2 separate regions of the Homo sapiens genome follow, and region 1 is linked to region 2. The links come from fine-mapping of genetic effects on gene expression. A gene starts in region 2. The other region holds a variant in brackets. All regions are shown on one strand. Distances are between the middles of the regions.

Region 1 (8,336 bases), 220 kb before region 2:
GTATGAATCTCAGGATTTAGAATAGTGGCCTCACACAGGAAAATGTTTTTGAATGAGACAGATTTGGAATCCCTTTGCCTCCCTGTGACCATGGGTCTCTCCTTGATTCTTCCGTCAGCGCCCTCTCATGCTCACTGAACGCTCTCCCCACATATGAGGCCCTGCTGTGCCTGCAGGCCAGCGGCTACCTCCAGTCAACATGTCTAAATTGGCACACCTCCTATTCCCACCCTCAGCAGTTCTTTCTCCTGGGCTTCCTCTTAATCTTCCACACCTTCAACTTACCAAGACTTGACACTTGGCCATCTTTAACATCTCCCTCTCCCTTATATACCACAACTACTCTTAAACAAGAGCCCATCTGCTATCATCTCACTCCAGTTAAAATGACTATTATCAAAAAGACAAAAAAAAAGACCAATGATGGTGAGGACGTGGGGAAAGGAGAATTCTTATACACTGTTGGTGGAAATGTAAATTAATACAGTCATTACAGAAAATAGTATAGTGTTCCCTCAAAAAATTAAGAATATAAACTACTATATGATCCAGCAATCCACTACTGTGTATGTAGCCAAAGGAAAGGAAGTCAAATATTTTGAAGAAATATCTGCACTCCCACGTTTACCACAGCACTCTTCACAATAGCCAAGATATGGAATCAACTGAAGTATCCATCAAAGGATGAATGCATAAAGAAAATCTCATATATATACACAATGGAATACTATTTAGCTGTAAAAAAGGACAAAATCCTGCCATCCACAACAACATGGATGGAACTGGAGGACATTGTGTTAAGTAAAATAAGCCAAGCACAGAAAGACAAATGTCACATGTTCTCACTTATATATGGAGTCTAAATAAATGAATCACATGGAGATAGCAAATAGAATGATAGTTATTAGAGGCTCAGAGGGTAGTGAGGAGGGGGAGTGGGAACGAAAACACACTTAGATATTATAGAAGGAATATAATCTAGTGTTCAGTAGCATAATAAGGTGACTATAGTTCACAGTAATTTACTGTATATTTTTACATAGCTAGAAAAGAAGATTTGGAATGTTCTCACCAAAAGAAATAATAAATATTTGAAGTGATGGATATCCCAATTGTGCTGATTTGATCATTGCACATTGCATACATGTAACAAAACATCACACTGTACCCCATAAATATATACAATTATTGTGTATCAAAAATAAAGCTTAAAGAGAAAAAATGTAGAAGGAAAAAAAGAAATGTAAAAAAATTTTTTTTAAAAAAAGAGCCCATCTGTTGACATGATCTGTTTCTACTCACAACACCCTGACACCAAAATATGTAAGTTTTTTTCCACACCCACAACCAGTTCTCCAGCTTTCCAGACACCAACTGGGTATCCAATGATTAAATTCCATTCTGACACTAGGTACCCAGAGTTAATTCAGACCCCACAGGTTACGGCCTCAGTCCCACAAGACTGTCCCACTTCAGACACCAATCACAAGTCCCAGCCACCCATACTTCTGATAAAACAGTCATAAAGTCAGAGGTTCCCACAACCCCTTCCTCAGTTTCAATGGTTTGCTAGAACAGCTCACAGAACTCAGAAAACCAGTTTACTTCCCATTGCTTATGTATTATAAAAGCTACAACTCAGGAAAAACCAAATGGAAGAGATGCATAGGGCCGGCGATGGGGGTGAGGACATGGAGCTTCTGTGCCCTCTTCACACGTTGATGTGTTTGCTGACCAAGAAGCCCTTCAAATCCCATTGTTTGGGGATTTTATGGAGGTTTCATTACATAGGCATAACTGATTAAATCATTGGCCATTGGCAATTGACTCAGTCTGTATCTCCTCTTCTTTCTTCAGAGGTTGAGGGGTGGAAGTGAGGTTGAAAGTTCCAACTCTTTTATCCTGTCTTGGTCTTCCTGGGAACCAGCCCCCAGCCAGAAGCTATCTAGAGTCCCCCAACCCCCAGCCATCTCACTAGCATCCACTCATGTGTGGTTGAAAGGGGCTTACGAATAAAATAACACACTCCTCTCATCCCATCGTTCAGGGAATTCCAAAGGTTTTAAGAGCTCCATGTAAGGAACTAGAGCCAGGGCTGAAGACAAGGATATATTTTTGTATTATATCACAATATCGGGCTATCTTCTGCACCATTCCCTCCTGGCAGTTCTCACCACTATTATTTAAGCTCAGGCCTTGATTATTTCAGCTTGAAATAAACATTCTCCAGGAACCTCTGACCCATGATTCCTAGCACACAGTTGGAGTCCTGGCGCTTTACTGTTCACACACTTTCAAAGGCTCCCACTGCCGACCAGGTAAGACACCATCCTCCTTAGCCTGGCACTGACAGTCTTCTAAATATAGGCCTCAAAACACCTTTTATCTTTATCTCTTGTTACTCCCCTCCACATACCCTATACTTAAGTTAAAGGGAACCATGTGAATGCCCCAAACAAACATGTCAGTTTCTTACCCCATGTCTTTGCTCCTTGCCTTCCCTCCGGCAATGCCTTCCTCTCCCTTCTCTGCCTGCCTTCTGTAACACTACAGGTTCTAGTTGAAATCATGACCATCCTTCACAAAGACTCATCCCACATGTTGGTTCCCCCAGTGGGTGCTCCCTAAACACCTCAGTTCCTGCCCTCAATTGATTTTTTTCTATTTGTGCTGTTCTTATGTCACTTACTGTATGCTGCTTTATGGTGACTTCAGTTCCCTTTTAACCTGTAAGTTCATTTAGGGCAGAGTGCATGTCTTACTCCTCCTTGAACTCACATAGTATCTTGTCCTCAGATGGTCATTAAATGCATACCAATTGAAAGAATAAATGCATGAAGGAAAATAAAATCAAGCCTCAGCTAGCTGTTACATTGAATAAGACAATAAATTAATTCACACTTAGATGGAAATGACTGCTTAAATGATTATAGACACAAAGATATTTTCATTGTAATTGCAGACAATCCATTAACCAAAGAATGACACTAAATTATGGAACCTCACAAGGGTAGTGTTGGAGTTTCCTGGTGCCACCTAAAATCAGATCACCAACTATCCTGCTTTGGGTATGAACTGCCTTAATGATTGGCTAGGCCTAGGTGTTTCAGGGTCCCCAGGATGGTCAGGTCTCCCATGTGACCAGTGCAACCTTATAATGCCACTCAGTTGAAAGTCAAACAAAGCTGACTGTCACATCCACCCTGCCATCCACTACAATATGTTACTTTGGGAAACTAACTACCTACCTGAGGCTTGGTTTCTTCGTCTGTCAAGCAAGAATGATAGTCCTGCTTTTCCAAGTTCTCATGAGGAACGGTGATCCAGGCAGGCAAGTAGAAGCTGCCAATGCAGCCGTGAGCATTCAAGTTTCTACTTGGGCCTCCAAGCACCACAGGTATGCTTGTGGTTCTGTCTGGCTCCACGTGGCTTTGGCAGGAGAAAGGGAGTCTGCCTCGCTGTCTTGCTGGACACTGCAGGAAGATGTTTGAAGCCTCCCCTCCAGTCTTTGTGGAAAGTTATCATAGGAGGCAATTTGGGGCAGGCTCCCTGATTCTTATGACTTTCTCCACCTCTGAGTTCACTGAGACCAAAGGAGCTTTTCCCAGTGAGGAGAGAAAC[A/T]TTCCAATCTATTGACATAAAAATGCCCATGGGAGAGTCCAGGGGAAATCATCAGACAGGAAGAAGATGGAAGAGATTGCGTGGCAGAGGCTTCAGGAGAACACAAGGTCTCAGGGTCAAGCATGCAAAGTGAGAGAGAGAGGGAGCGTGTGCTCCTGCCAATTCCTTCTGCTGAACATGTACCCTTAGCACAAAGAGCAAACACGCACACACACACTTTAAAAATACAAAAAACAAATGGGAAGTTTTCCCTTGGAAAAAAATAGCCTCTGGCAGAAAACCATGAAGGTAATTGCTAGAGACTGGGCCCATCTCGGCCCATCTATGCTGAAACGTGGCCTCCCCATACATGAAAGCTACTGCTCGCTGGTCAGGCCAGAACCCCAGGCCAGGCCTTCCACTCTCTCTGTCTCTCCTCAGGATTCAATCTTACTGCCAACTGGCAGTGAATCTGGACAAATTGGCAGGGGCCCACCTTGCTTTAAGTGAATGCATGTGCACCTCTCAAGCTCGCAGAGGATACTCATTAGCCTGCTCCACTGCCCCTTTGAGGGAGGTTAAGGTGGCCTGTCTACCAACACCGACAGAGCCCACCTCTCGAAACCAGTCACACCCCCCGCCTCGAGGAGCAGAAAGGAGGCCTTTGCTCCCCAAATACCTGTACATAGAAAGAGCTTCTATTCACAGAGTTATATGCTGGCTTCTTCTCATGCACTAGTCTCCCCACACATTTCTGTGGCTATGTGCTATGTCCAAGTAGAAAGAAGTTCATCGAGCTGAAAACTCCCCAGAAAGTTAGACATTGAGCATGACTCTAAATATGCCCCAGGGAACACAGCCCAGAAAATTTGTTAATTAAATCTCGGTGGAAAACTAAGTCTGACCACAGTCATCTTGAGTTTAACATGGATCAGCTAAGAAGTAATGGAGATCCATCCTGTGGTCACGCTAGCCGGAACTTTGTCACCTCCCTGGGCAGGGAATGGAAGGTGCTGCCTGGCACCATCTGCTGAGGAGGCCTGGAGTCAGGGCGGATGCACAAGATTTCAAGGGAAGGACAAAGGGAAGCCTGAGGAATTGGAGAATTTCCATTTCACCCCTGCCCCTTCCCCTTCTCCTCTGAGGGGCCTGCTTTTTCGACTTTGTCACATTCTCTCTCTGACCCCATTTTAGATGAACTCTTTAAAATAATGAATTTCCTATTTGATGATTCCATTTATCTCTTTGATAAATGGAGAGGGCATCGATTGCCAAGAGCTGCCATCAACCGCCTGCCTGGATTGGGCTGGTCGGGTGCGGTAATTAGCAAATGTTTAAGGACAGAAGAGTCAGTTCCATAGTTCTGGTTATTCACAATCGCTACAGTTCTTCTTATATATCCACCAATTCCACCTCTAGGAATTCCTGCTAGAGAAACATGCAATGATTTAGGACTCAAACTAGTAACAAAAATGTTATTTATAAAGGCAGAAAAAACAAAGGTTAAAAAGTAGAAATGTACTTGAATGAGTTACAGCACAAAGGAATACTTCTAAACCAATAATAAGTACACATTATTATGTATTTATCACAAAAAATGTGTTCACAATACATGAAGTAAATAAAAGGGGATCACAAGCAGTATGATCTCATTTTGGCAAAATGAAATAGTGAAAAAAAAGTAGGAAGAGAGAAAATAAAGACAGGAGGGAGGGAAGGAAAGAAAGAATCTAAGGATATGTATTTTAAAATGCTTCTTGCCTGTAATCCCAACACTTTGGGAGGCTGAGGCGGGCAGATCACAAGGTCAGGGGATCGAGACCATCCTGGCTAACATGGTGAAACCCCATCTCTACTAAAAATACAAAAAATTAGCCAGGCATGGTGGCAGGCACCTGTAGTCCCAGCTACTCAGGAGGCTGAGGCAGGAGAACGGCATGAACCTGGGAGGCGGAGGTTGCAGTGAGCCGAGATCACACCACTGCACTCCAGCCTGGGCGACAAAGCGAGACTCCGTTTCAAAAAAAAAAAAATGCTTCTCTATATAGTGACGTTCTCTTTATCCTTATTATATGGTATAAATTTTCCTTGTAAATTTCATTTTTTTAATTAGAGAGGAAAATCATGCTATTTAAGTGCGCGCGCGCGCGCGCGCGCACACACACACACACACACACACACACACACACACACACACACACACAGAGGAGTCTGTCCACTTCACTGTCCTGTCTCTGAGATGAGATGCCTGTTTGCCAGCTTCCTGCCAAGGGGCCTGGGCGGGCAGGCTGCACCACCCCGTGGCTTAGAGCATGTTCTTGCAGTACTTGCCCACCATTCCACCAGGCCAGGTGGCACCTGGCAAAGGTGAGGAAGCAGGGGTGTGGAGGAGCAAGACAGTAGGATGCCTGGCTATCCAAGTTCTCCTATTACTAGCACAGGCTTGTGAACCAAATCAGAGCTCCTCTTACAGAATATTTTTGTTTTCCAAAACTAAAATACCAAATTGACAGGAAAAGGAGAACACCCTGAAGGGCTCTGCTAAGTAGACTATTTCACTCCATGACTTTACATTCAAGGTCAAACTAGTTTAAATGTTCGCTTCCTGTTGGGGAGCAGGGTGCATGTGCTGTCCCAAGAGGGGCTGCCTTGCTAAGGGTCACAGAGTATGATACTTAGTGCTCGCTGACACTTAGTGCTCTACAGGAGGTGGCAGGTCCCAGCAGCAGCACCAGCTCCAACACTTTGGCATCACACTTCATTTTCCAGGCCTCAGTTTCCCCCTGTGTAGTAATGGGTACTATGTATTCACTAATAACCAGCATAACAGTCAGTACTCTTCACGCTCTGTTAGAGGAGCTCCATGGGGAGCTTATGGGGAGGGTGAGTAGTGGCTTAAGTGGGAGCCAAGGAAGAAGCTAAATGGGCAATGCCTTGGACCCCCAACCCCCAATATAACCAGAGCAGCTCCACACATTATCTCTTTTATATATTTAGGTTCAAGGGAAGGATTTATTGGAAAATAGATTTCTACAATTATGACTTAGCCACCAAACCAAAAATGTAGCTCTGATATATATACATATATATATATATATATATACATATATATATACATATATATATGTATATATATATATGTATATATACATATATATATAAAGAGAGAGAGTTTTTTTTTTTGTTTTTTTTTTTTTTTTTTGAGATGGAGTCTCGCACTGTTGCCAGGCTGGAGTGCAATGGCACAATCTTGGCTCACTGCCACCTCTGCTTCCCAGGTTCAAGCGATTCTCCTGCCTCAGCCTCCCAAGTAGCTGGAATTACAGGCACCCACCACCACGCCCAGCTAATTTTTTGTATTTTTAGTAGAGACAGGGTTTCACTACATTGGCCAGGCTGGTCTCGAACTCCTGACCTTGTGATCTGCCCGCATCGGCTTCCCAAAGTGTTGGGATTACAGGCATGAGTCACTGCACCCAGTCCTGATATTCTTTTTAATAAAGTATTACCTCTAAGCACAGTGGACTTATAATTATGTTTCAGCTGAGACAGGCATTGATTGCCTGGACTCTTTTTCCTATTTTCAATGTGATTTACTCATGCAGAGGAGGGCTGCCATCTTTGGGTATAATCTCAGAAATAAGATTCAAACATTCAGCAGACAAAGATGTGTTATTAAGTCATCCTCCCATAAAGAGAGTGAGAAATCCATGAACCTGGCATCTCTACAAGGCACCTGGCACCAATTATTCCTGGCCCTGGCTAAATGGTTCTACATAAGAGTGCTCAAAAATAAAGTGGAGCTATTTTGGACTCTTTGCTTGGGTTTTATTAGGTATTTTCTTTCCATATGAGGAAATGGTTCATTGCTCTGTTCTCCATGGTACCTGCTATTTAGCAATGGTGATGTCTATGTTTGTGCATATGCACCTACATGCAATGCCCTTTGGTGGTGGACATCTGCATTTTAGAAGTACTTTGAGTGAGGGGAATATATGCCAGCTTTATTTCTTAAAATAACAGCCATCTCAGTCTGTTGTCCGTTCCTATGACAGAATACCTTAGATTGGGTGATTTATAAAGAATTATTTCTTCTGGTTCTGGAGGCTGGGAAGTTTAAGGCTGACATCCAGTGAGGGACTTCTCACTGCATCATAACACAGTGGAGGGCATCACGTGGTGAGAGCAAGAATGTGCAGGTCAGCTAGAGTCTTTCTTTTTCTTCTTATAAAGCCACCCATCCCATTTTGCCCCCCCCCCCACCCTGATGATCTTATCTAAACCTAATTTCCTCCAGAAGGCCCAATGTCCAATCAATATATGAATTTGGGGATTAAGTTTCCAATACATTCAAACCATAGTAACAGCACCAGAGCAGAACTTTCACAACTATCTGATTCCTGACCCCCAACATTCCTTCCTTTCCTGGAAATAAGAAGGAGAAAGAAGAGAGGAAACAGAAAGAGGAAAAGAAGGGATGGGAAGGTAGGAGGGATGAGAAGGAAGAGTAGAAGATAAAAGAAATTAAAATTCATTTTAGAGCAAGCTTTTTAATCTCAAGTACGCTAGATTTTTGTTCTGGATGGGCTTGGGAATTCTTAGCCTGTGTCATTTTCATGATCTTGAAAAACAAAACCATCTATGGGAAGGGCTGCCATGTGGACCTGGATTTGATTTTATTGCATTTTGCTCTCATCTCTTCTGGAGTGTTGGTGGGGACCATGAGAAGCATGAAT
Region 2 (8,336 bases):
GTTTGTTCTCAGACTAGACTCTTCCTAAGATGAGGGGCAAAGGCTCTCCAGACGCAGACTCTGGTCTCGTTCTCGGAAATCCGCGTCTGAACCGATGGGGTCCGAGGAGCAGAAGCGTACACGGAGGTGCACGGCCGCGGGCACAGGTCCCCCCGCGTGGCAAGAGGAAGCGGCCCAGCCAGCTGCAGGGGCGTCCTCGTTGTGGGGCCGGGTAGAGGGAGGGCCAAAGGCGAAGGAATGAGGTCATCCCCCCACCCCTCGAAAAAACCTTCCTAAAAGTAAAAATGTAAGGGATCTCAGCGTAAAGGAACCTGACTTGCAACCTCAAAGGGACAATCTCTGTTTTGGGAAATGGCGCCCCCAGATGGCTGAATCCCATGAAAAAATACTCACCCGGAGCAGGGAAGGCCTGGGTGCACGGACCCGGGGAGAGGTGACGTCACCCGCCCGGCTGGCCAGCGCACGGCTGAAAGCCAGGCGGCAACGCGGTTGGAGACACCCGACAAGTCGCGACAGGTCCCCAAGGCTAGCCCGGTAGTCACTTCACCTCACCGAGGCACATGTAACGTCAGCAGCTGTACCACTTACGGTGTGGCCCGGTTCGTTACTTAACCTCTCCATGCCTCAGTTTCCCAGTGACTGCTTGTGTGCAAAATGATCATCCGGGAGCCGGTGCTGGATTGTGTGAATTAAGGAACTAGCATTTTACACGCATCGTTCTTCTCGCTTTCACTCCTCAGAAATAAGGGTCCATCCGCTTTGATTTTACTACTTGAGAGTGGGGGTGGGAGGCTCGCTTTTCCCAGCTCTTCGCGGAGGCCAAGCGGACTCCCTGACAGGACAGAATCTGAACGTGAGAGTGAAGGTCTTGCCTGTCCAGAAACTCTTGTAGCCAGCACAGGTTTAAACAAGAAGCCAAATTGTTCTGGAGAGATTGCTGGGGGCTTTCTTTGTGCCTCAAGCTTCTTCAGTGCCCTGAGCACAGGAAACACTCAAGCAGAGAAGCAGAGCCAAACCCAGGATACGGGAGGTCGAGGCTCTTCCGTAGACCTGCAGCATTGGGGTGGGATGATGTTCATTCTGTGTGTGTTCTGGACCAAGCCCCTCTCCAGGGACCTATGGGCAGCCCCCTTTAAGCAAGATGCCCGGTGGAGTGGGCATCCACCATCACTTACCCTGGGCTTGGGTGAATAGATTTTCCGTGCCTTAAATGGGCAGGGAGGGGGTAAACATGGACGGTCCATTGGTACAAATAAAAGCCTTTGGTGGGTTTTGATCAATTGCAAGGATCGAAGGAGACCTGTGGACCTGAGGTCAACTGGCAGCAGAGAAGAGTCTGGGTTCGTGAAGGCGCCGCCGCGGTGCCGCGCCACGTGTGAGCATCCCAGGGACCAGTCTGGGGAGGCGCGCTGGGATGGGCACCCAGTGTCCCATCCCTGCGCTGCTCATATGGGCAGAGCTCCGTGCCCGCGTCCCAGCCTCCGCGGGAGGTTATTGCCCTGTTCCCCAGTGATCAATTGGACCGGTCTTAGCCCAAAAGCAGAAGGGAGTGGGGAGAGCGACTTGAGGTGGGAAAGGCAGCAGCAGCGAGTGCAGGGTCGGGACCAGACTAAGTGGCGTGGGTTCCGGGAGGAGCAGCGATGGGCCGCAGGGGACGCCGCGGGCCGGGCAAACAAGCTGGCCAGAGGTGGACACTGCGCACGGCAGGGATGGAGACTCAGGCGCGACTCCCAGCACCTCCTGGCGGCAAGCCGGGCAGCGAGGGCTCCCAAAACAATGCAGCCGGCGCGCGGAGCGCGGGGGCCGCCAGCCACTTCCGGGCGTGCGGCAGCGCGGGGCTCAAACCAGCCAGACCAGCTTCGGGCTCCTTGAACTCCCAACAAGGGGCTCTGCGGGGAGGAGGCGACCCCAGCGGAGGGCGTTGGGGATTTAGGGGTTGGCCGGGGCCGGCGGGGGGTTGGGGGGGCGTGAAAGCGAGAGGGCCCTTATCCCACTCCCAGGCCCAAGTCGTAGCATCTCTCAGAGCTCACGCTCTTTATTAGCTCTTTCTTTTGGTGTGCTTCTGTTTCCTTTGTGGTTTCATTGCAAAGTAGTTTATGTTGGGAAGGGGGCTTTTAGGCCTCTTGGTGCTTTCGTTAGAGACGAAAAGGCCCTGAACCAATTTGGGGAAAGAGAGGCCTTTTGCAGCTACCCCGGGCCCTTCCCCAGCAGAGCACCCGGAAGCTGGGCTCTTAGGGACGCAGATTCTTGGAGTTCAGAATGTGCATTCTCTCCAGATGACGATTTTCCTGGCGTGTTTACGGTCAGCAGATAACACTGAGTGGGCTTTTGCCACCCATTCATTCATTACCCGGCTCCTCTAAGCAGCTGGACCGCAAAGTGTGCCTGATAACTTGGGCCTGGGAGCCGCCAAGGCCAACGCATCTTCCGGAAGGAGGGAAATTAGGAAGCCGGGGTCTGAGCCTGTGAATGACTCTTAAGTGGTCGGGAAGTAATAACAATGCGCCCACCTTACATATGAAAGAACTTCGCCCTCCGGGGATTATCTCTTTGGATCTTCACAGCCACCCGGAGACAGCGGCTGAGGAGAGCGAAGGCCTCCTGTCCCCATAGGGAGACTAGGGACAATTAGGCAAAAGGAGCCCACCCCCCAACCCAGAACTTACTGTTTGCAGTCAGAGACACTAGATCCCAGGCTCCACGAGAGCAGAGGCCGGCCTGTTTGTTCATTTCTGCACATCCAGCGCCCAGCATGGTGCCCCCTGGTACGTAGGGGATGAATGAGCTAATTCTAGCCCTCGTGGATCTCTAGGCAGGACTCCTTCCTCTACCTCGCTCCCTCCCAGCCTGCCCATCTTTTGTGCCCGTCTTTTGTGCCGGCCACCAGTCTTTACAAACAGTGCCCTGGGGGCCCATACTCCAGCTTTCCAGAGCGCACAGCTGCAAGGGCGGCTGTGTGTTAGAGCCCGTGATGCCTTCGAGTATTGAGTCATGCCATTCATTTAAGAAGGAAAAATCTCTCCAAAACGGGGAAATGGTGGGCAGTCCTGTGTGACTGGTGAGACTCTTGTAGGGGCGTTTCTACAACGACGAAACCCTTCCTAGGCACTCACTCCAACAGAATAACAAGCCCATTTTATTAGTATTTCGTTTTCCATGTAAAGTTCTGCTCATACGAATATATTTATAATTCTGATTTTTTTACGGCATTGGGGAGCACACCGACAGGCTGCTGAACGGTGGCTGGAGATTCGAGGGAAAACGAAGTTCGCCGAGGCGGCCTCGGGCGGGCAGGTCCCGGGCTCCATCACAGGGCACACGCGGCTACCAGGGACGCAGCCCCCCAACACACACACACACACACACACACACACACACACACACACACACACCCTCTCCCACTCATGCCTGGCAACCCAGCAGAAACTTCGGACTGGGGCAAAACAAGCCCGGGCCCCGGCGGCACGCGGGGCTAGGCGCGTTCCCGCCAGTACCTGGTCGCGAGGCCGCTCGCGGGGTGCCCTGCGTGCCCCCCACTCCCGCAGCCCGCGCCCTGCTCGCTCACTGTGGGGGCGCAGCGGCCAGGCTTCTCTGTTTGTTGTTTAAAGAAATCCTAGGGCGGGCGAGCGGCGGCATCTAGGGGAGGGGGCGCAGCCAGAATTCCCTTCCAGCAAGCGCGTGAGGGGCATTCTCAACGCAAAACCAGACCCAGAAAGTAGTGACCAGCCCTCCTCGGATTACCCTTCATTGGCTCCTCCCTTGCTCCCCCCACCCTCCAGATTTGCATAAAAAAGGCCAAGAAAACTCTGGCTGTGCCCCAGCAACGGCTCATTCTGCTCCCCCGGGTCGGAGCCCCCCGGAGCTGCGCGCGGGCTTGCAGCGCCTCGCCCGCGCTGTCCTCCCGGTGTCCCGCTTCTCCGCGCCCCAGCCGCCGGCTGCCAGCTTTTCGGGGCCCCGAGTCGCACCCAGCGAAGAGAGCGGGCCCGGGACAAGCTCGAACTCCGGCCGCCTCGCCCTTCCCCGGCTCCGCTCCCTCTGCCCCCTCGGGGTCGCGCGCCCACGATGCTGCAGGGCCCTGGCTCGCTGCTGCTGCTCTTCCTCGCCTCGCACTGCTGCCTGGGCTCGGCGCGCGGGCTCTTCCTCTTTGGCCAGCCCGACTTCTCCTACAAGCGCAGCAATTGCAAGCCCATCCCTGCCAACCTGCAGCTGTGCCACGGCATCGAATACCAGAACATGCGGCTGCCCAACCTGCTGGGCCACGAGACCATGAAGGAGGTGCTGGAGCAGGCCGGCGCTTGGATCCCGCTGGTCATGAAGCAGTGCCACCCGGACACCAAGAAGTTCCTGTGCTCGCTCTTCGCCCCCGTCTGCCTCGATGACCTAGACGAGACCATCCAGCCATGCCACTCGCTCTGCGTGCAGGTGAAGGACCGCTGCGCCCCGGTCATGTCCGCCTTCGGCTTCCCCTGGCCCGACATGCTTGAGTGCGACCGTTTCCCCCAGGACAACGACCTTTGCATCCCCCTCGCTAGCAGCGACCACCTCCTGCCAGCCACCGAGGAAGGTAAGCCTTCCCTCTTGCTTCCCCACTCCCTGCTGGGCTGAGACGCTCCCAGGAGATCCCGCCCCTGCCACGCATCCCAGTGCATCCCTGCTTGGGGTGCCAGTAGCGGGAAGGGCAGAAGTTCTGCCTGACCTGGTCTGTCATCACAACAAGCCTGTATCAAATTTGAGGCACCCCTCCCACGCCGCCCAAGTCTCGCGCATTCTCCTCCCGAGTTGTACCAGCTATACTTAAGGGCAGTTTAAAAATAAAACAAACAAACAAAAACAACAAAACTAAAAAAACGAAGAACTGAACGGCGGTTTAAAAAAAAATAGATACACGATTATTGTTAAAGATGCTAGCACTGGAGCTGCGCAGAGCGTTGGAAGTGGTGTTTGGTGGAGGAGTTTGTGGTGAGCATTCTGGCCAGAGGCCCCTCGCTCAGCCTCATTCTGCACCTTCCTACCACTGGGCAGGATTCTAGTCACAGGAACATTTCCTGTACAGAAAGGAAAACCAGGATGCACAAGTAGATAACCTTTTAAGGGTCTTTTTGTCCTTTGTCAATTTAGATTTTGGAAATAAAACCGGGACTGGCACGGAGTGTGTGGAAAATTGAACATTGGTTGTAACTGCTCAGATACTTGAGGAAGAGGGCATAAAGGGAATCTCTGGAAATCACTTTTCTATTGCTATCAGTTTTTAACTTAGGAGTGGTTTTGATTAGCTGGAGAAAATCATGCAAAAGAGATTCCCAAGTTTTTAGAAAACGGAGGGAGAGTTCCTGTGCAAAAACCATCAAAGCAATGAAAACCTCATGGGCTCTCAATATTTTTTCTGAAAGGAAAACATATACAATGCCTCTGAGCTGATTTGGGTCCCCTGGGTTGGAAAAGGGAGCTTCCTAATCCCTTTCAGGGCTTCAGCAGCCTCTCCCTTTCAATCTCTAGTAGTTTTCCTACAGACATCATTAGTTAAAGCAAATGCAAAGTTCTTTAGCAATCTTTCCTGGCAGGGACCATGAGTTTGCAATCATCTTATTGGTTAGATTTCTAATTTATTGCAAATGTTTGGCATTTTTCAAACATTTGTCCAACATGTACCATAGACCAACCAATACAGGTTAGTAATATTTTATATACATCCTGAGAGCTCCTAATTGGAAATGTTTGATTTTGTTTGGGTGAGGGGACTTAAGGGCAGTTTTATGTATGTTGCTTTTATTTCTTCCCACTATCAGCAGCAACATTACGCATCTTACATTTCTCCAAAAAGCCACTTTTCTCCTTCAAAATAAAAGTTTATGTTCTTCAAAATTCCAGCTTTGTGATTTTTCTAATTTGATAAATAACGCTTCTATTAAGTCACATAGTTTTCTATGAACATTAAATTTCACATTAGTGAAAATCTCATTTCACCTAAATTTTAAAGACATAATTAACACATTTATAAATGAGAGAAGGGCAATATAATTGTTCTTTTTTTTTTTTTTTTACTTCTCCCAAGAAATCAAACTCTTAGAAGAGCTTTTAGCAGGTCTTCTGATAATTGTGCTAGTATACAATCCCTAAGTTTGATCAGACCACTAAACCATTTTTGCTTCGTCTTTGATTAGCTTCAGAAACAGGTTTATTTATTTGTTTGTTTTGAGAGTTTGAAACAGGCACAGAAGGGCAAGAAGAACCTGTACCAGGGAGCTTGCAGATAACAATGAAATGAATGCTGCCTAACTCAAGCACAATCTTGGCAGAGGCACAAGGTGACACAGAACCACTTAGAGCAGGCTGTTGTAATTAGTGAGATGTGTTTTCAAGGTGGAAACAGCCCACATGTGGAACGCTAGCCAGTCACCCCTCCCAGTCCAGACTTGGCCCCCCTGAGATACAGAGCTCTGCCGAGTAGAGCCAACTACACTGGTGTCCTGTGGCTGAGAAAGACAATCTTTTGTCTATATTTTCTAGTTACCAGTTTTCCCAAATTCCTCAAGTATCTTTGGTTCTTTGGGTGCTTTCTCCTTCAAAAGGCCTTGGGAATAACTTTTTCAGACTGAATTTCCCAGAGGTTGGGAGGATGAGCTGAAAAGCTGCACCCTGTCTCAGTTAACTATAACTACATACACTTGTATACTCTGCCCACAACTCCCTTTTGAGAGTCATAATTTATTAAACACAACAACATATAGGCATTCTCATTTTGCTCCCACCACCCCTCCCCCCCAAAAAAATTGGGAAGCATGGGAAAACTTTCTTAGGATTGAGTGTTCCTGCTTTTATAGAGGAGGCAGAAGCTGAGGTTAAATAGGACAATTGCTACTTTTGTCTGGATAAGTCCCTTTGAGTTGTTTACAAACGCCACCTACTGTTCTCTTTTAAGCAAACTTACTAAAGACTGTTTTTCACATTTCTAGCTCCAAAGGTATGTGAAGCCTGCAAAAATAAAAATGATGATGACAACGACATAATGGAAACGCTTTGTAAAAATGATTTTGGTAAGTAATACAACAACAACAACAGATTTCACATTCAGAAGTTTTATTTACCAGTAAAACTTCAAGGTGCAAATCATTATGATGTTGCTAGATAAAGGTTGGGTAAAACACCATTATAGCTCATGTATCCCAAAATCATCTAACTTGATCTATCCTAGTTTCCTCCTTATGTAACTGTCTAGCATTGAGTTGTATCTTGTTAGGTGAGACTCATTGTTCTGTTAAGCCAATAATCAAATAATGAAAATTATTCAGATTATCAATTTCCAGTGGCACATTTTAAATCCCTTTTTTTTTTTTTTTTTTTTTGCCGACAGGCATAATCCCGAGTTCTATTTTCTTTTGATTACTTAACATGTGCACCAGGGATGGAAGTGTAAATATTAGCCCCAGCCAAACAGATTCAAGGCTTTAAATTGGCCACAAATAAAAATATTTTTACTTTCTTTATAACCCATAATGATTTTAAACCTCTGTGTTCTACCATTAGTGAATATATCCAAGGCACTGATTAATAATTTGTCAAGGAGGGGTTCCTTAAGTTGAAAAAGAAGAGTGGCTTACTGAGAAGACACCTAACATGGAACACCTAACAACCTTAAAACACCATCTTAAAATCCCTTTTAAAAGGTTTTTGTAAATTTTGTATGACTAAGTCTAGACACATTTGCCACAGTTTCGAAAATAGTTTTAAAAAGGAAAAAAAAAGCTTAGAAATTTACTTTAGCAAGATACATGATAGATCACATGGTGTTTGGGGACAATAAAAAACACATGTGATATGTTCCATAAGTTGCAAGTCACTCCCCTGAAGACAGGATTATAAGGGGAAAGAGAGCTGGGGCTTTGTCTACATGGAACTCTACCAGCACCTCATCTGCTGACTTCAGGGCTCTCAGGTCAGAAGAGGAGCCCAGCTAGACACAGGATCAATGCTAAATTCAGAGTTGGGAATGACCAGGAACTTCACCCAGAGGCATTCTTGCTTTTATCCTTTTCCAAGGGCAGGTACCTTTTGGTGTGTTGGAATTATTGGTACCTTTTAAAAAAGTATTTATTCAGGCACAAGGCTGAACTTACTCATAAGCAGATATGTTCCCTGCTCTGTCAATCAATAATGGAGTCTAATAGACCCATATTAACACTTCTACATATTCAACATAGTCCTCGAGACTGAGGGAAATCACTCCAGCTCTCACTCTCCTTACCTTGCCATCCCAGAAATCTCAGGCCTGGTCAGGTCCCTAAAACTCTGGAACCATCCAATCCCTGCTCTTTGACAACTCCAGGTCTCTTCCAGAA

Direction of the effects. Alleles are on the strand shown, and positions count from the first base shown. SD is a standard deviation of normalised expression in the study named.
As copies of T replace A in region 1, the expression in esophagus muscle of the gene that starts at base 3,815 in region 2 goes down (moderate effect, 0.53 SD a copy in GTEx).

What was found. PIP is the estimated chance that this variant, and not a neighbour inherited with it, causes the effect.
Region 1: its variant is fine-mapped to the expression of SFRP2 in esophagus muscle (GTEx, PIP 0.98).

What each region holds. Positions count from the first base shown.
Region 1 is chr4:154,000,374-154,008,709 of GRCh38, reverse strand. All of the region lies in intron 8 of LOC101927947 (a long non-coding RNA gene), which reads right to left. Among named protein-coding and RNA genes, the nearest start is that of SFRP2, 220 kb to the right of the region's middle. The variant A/T (reference allele first, on the strand shown) is at 3,622.
Region 2 is chr4:153,784,562-153,792,897 of GRCh38, reverse strand. SFRP2 (secreted frizzled related protein 2) reads left to right here and starts at 3,815. Exons shown (of 3, transcript NM_003013.3): 1 at 3,815-4,564; 2 at 6,954-7,034. The coding sequence starts at 4,063. RefSeq lists enhancers at 207-501, 78-779, 1,753-1,922, 2,184-2,885, 2,886-3,587 and 1 more.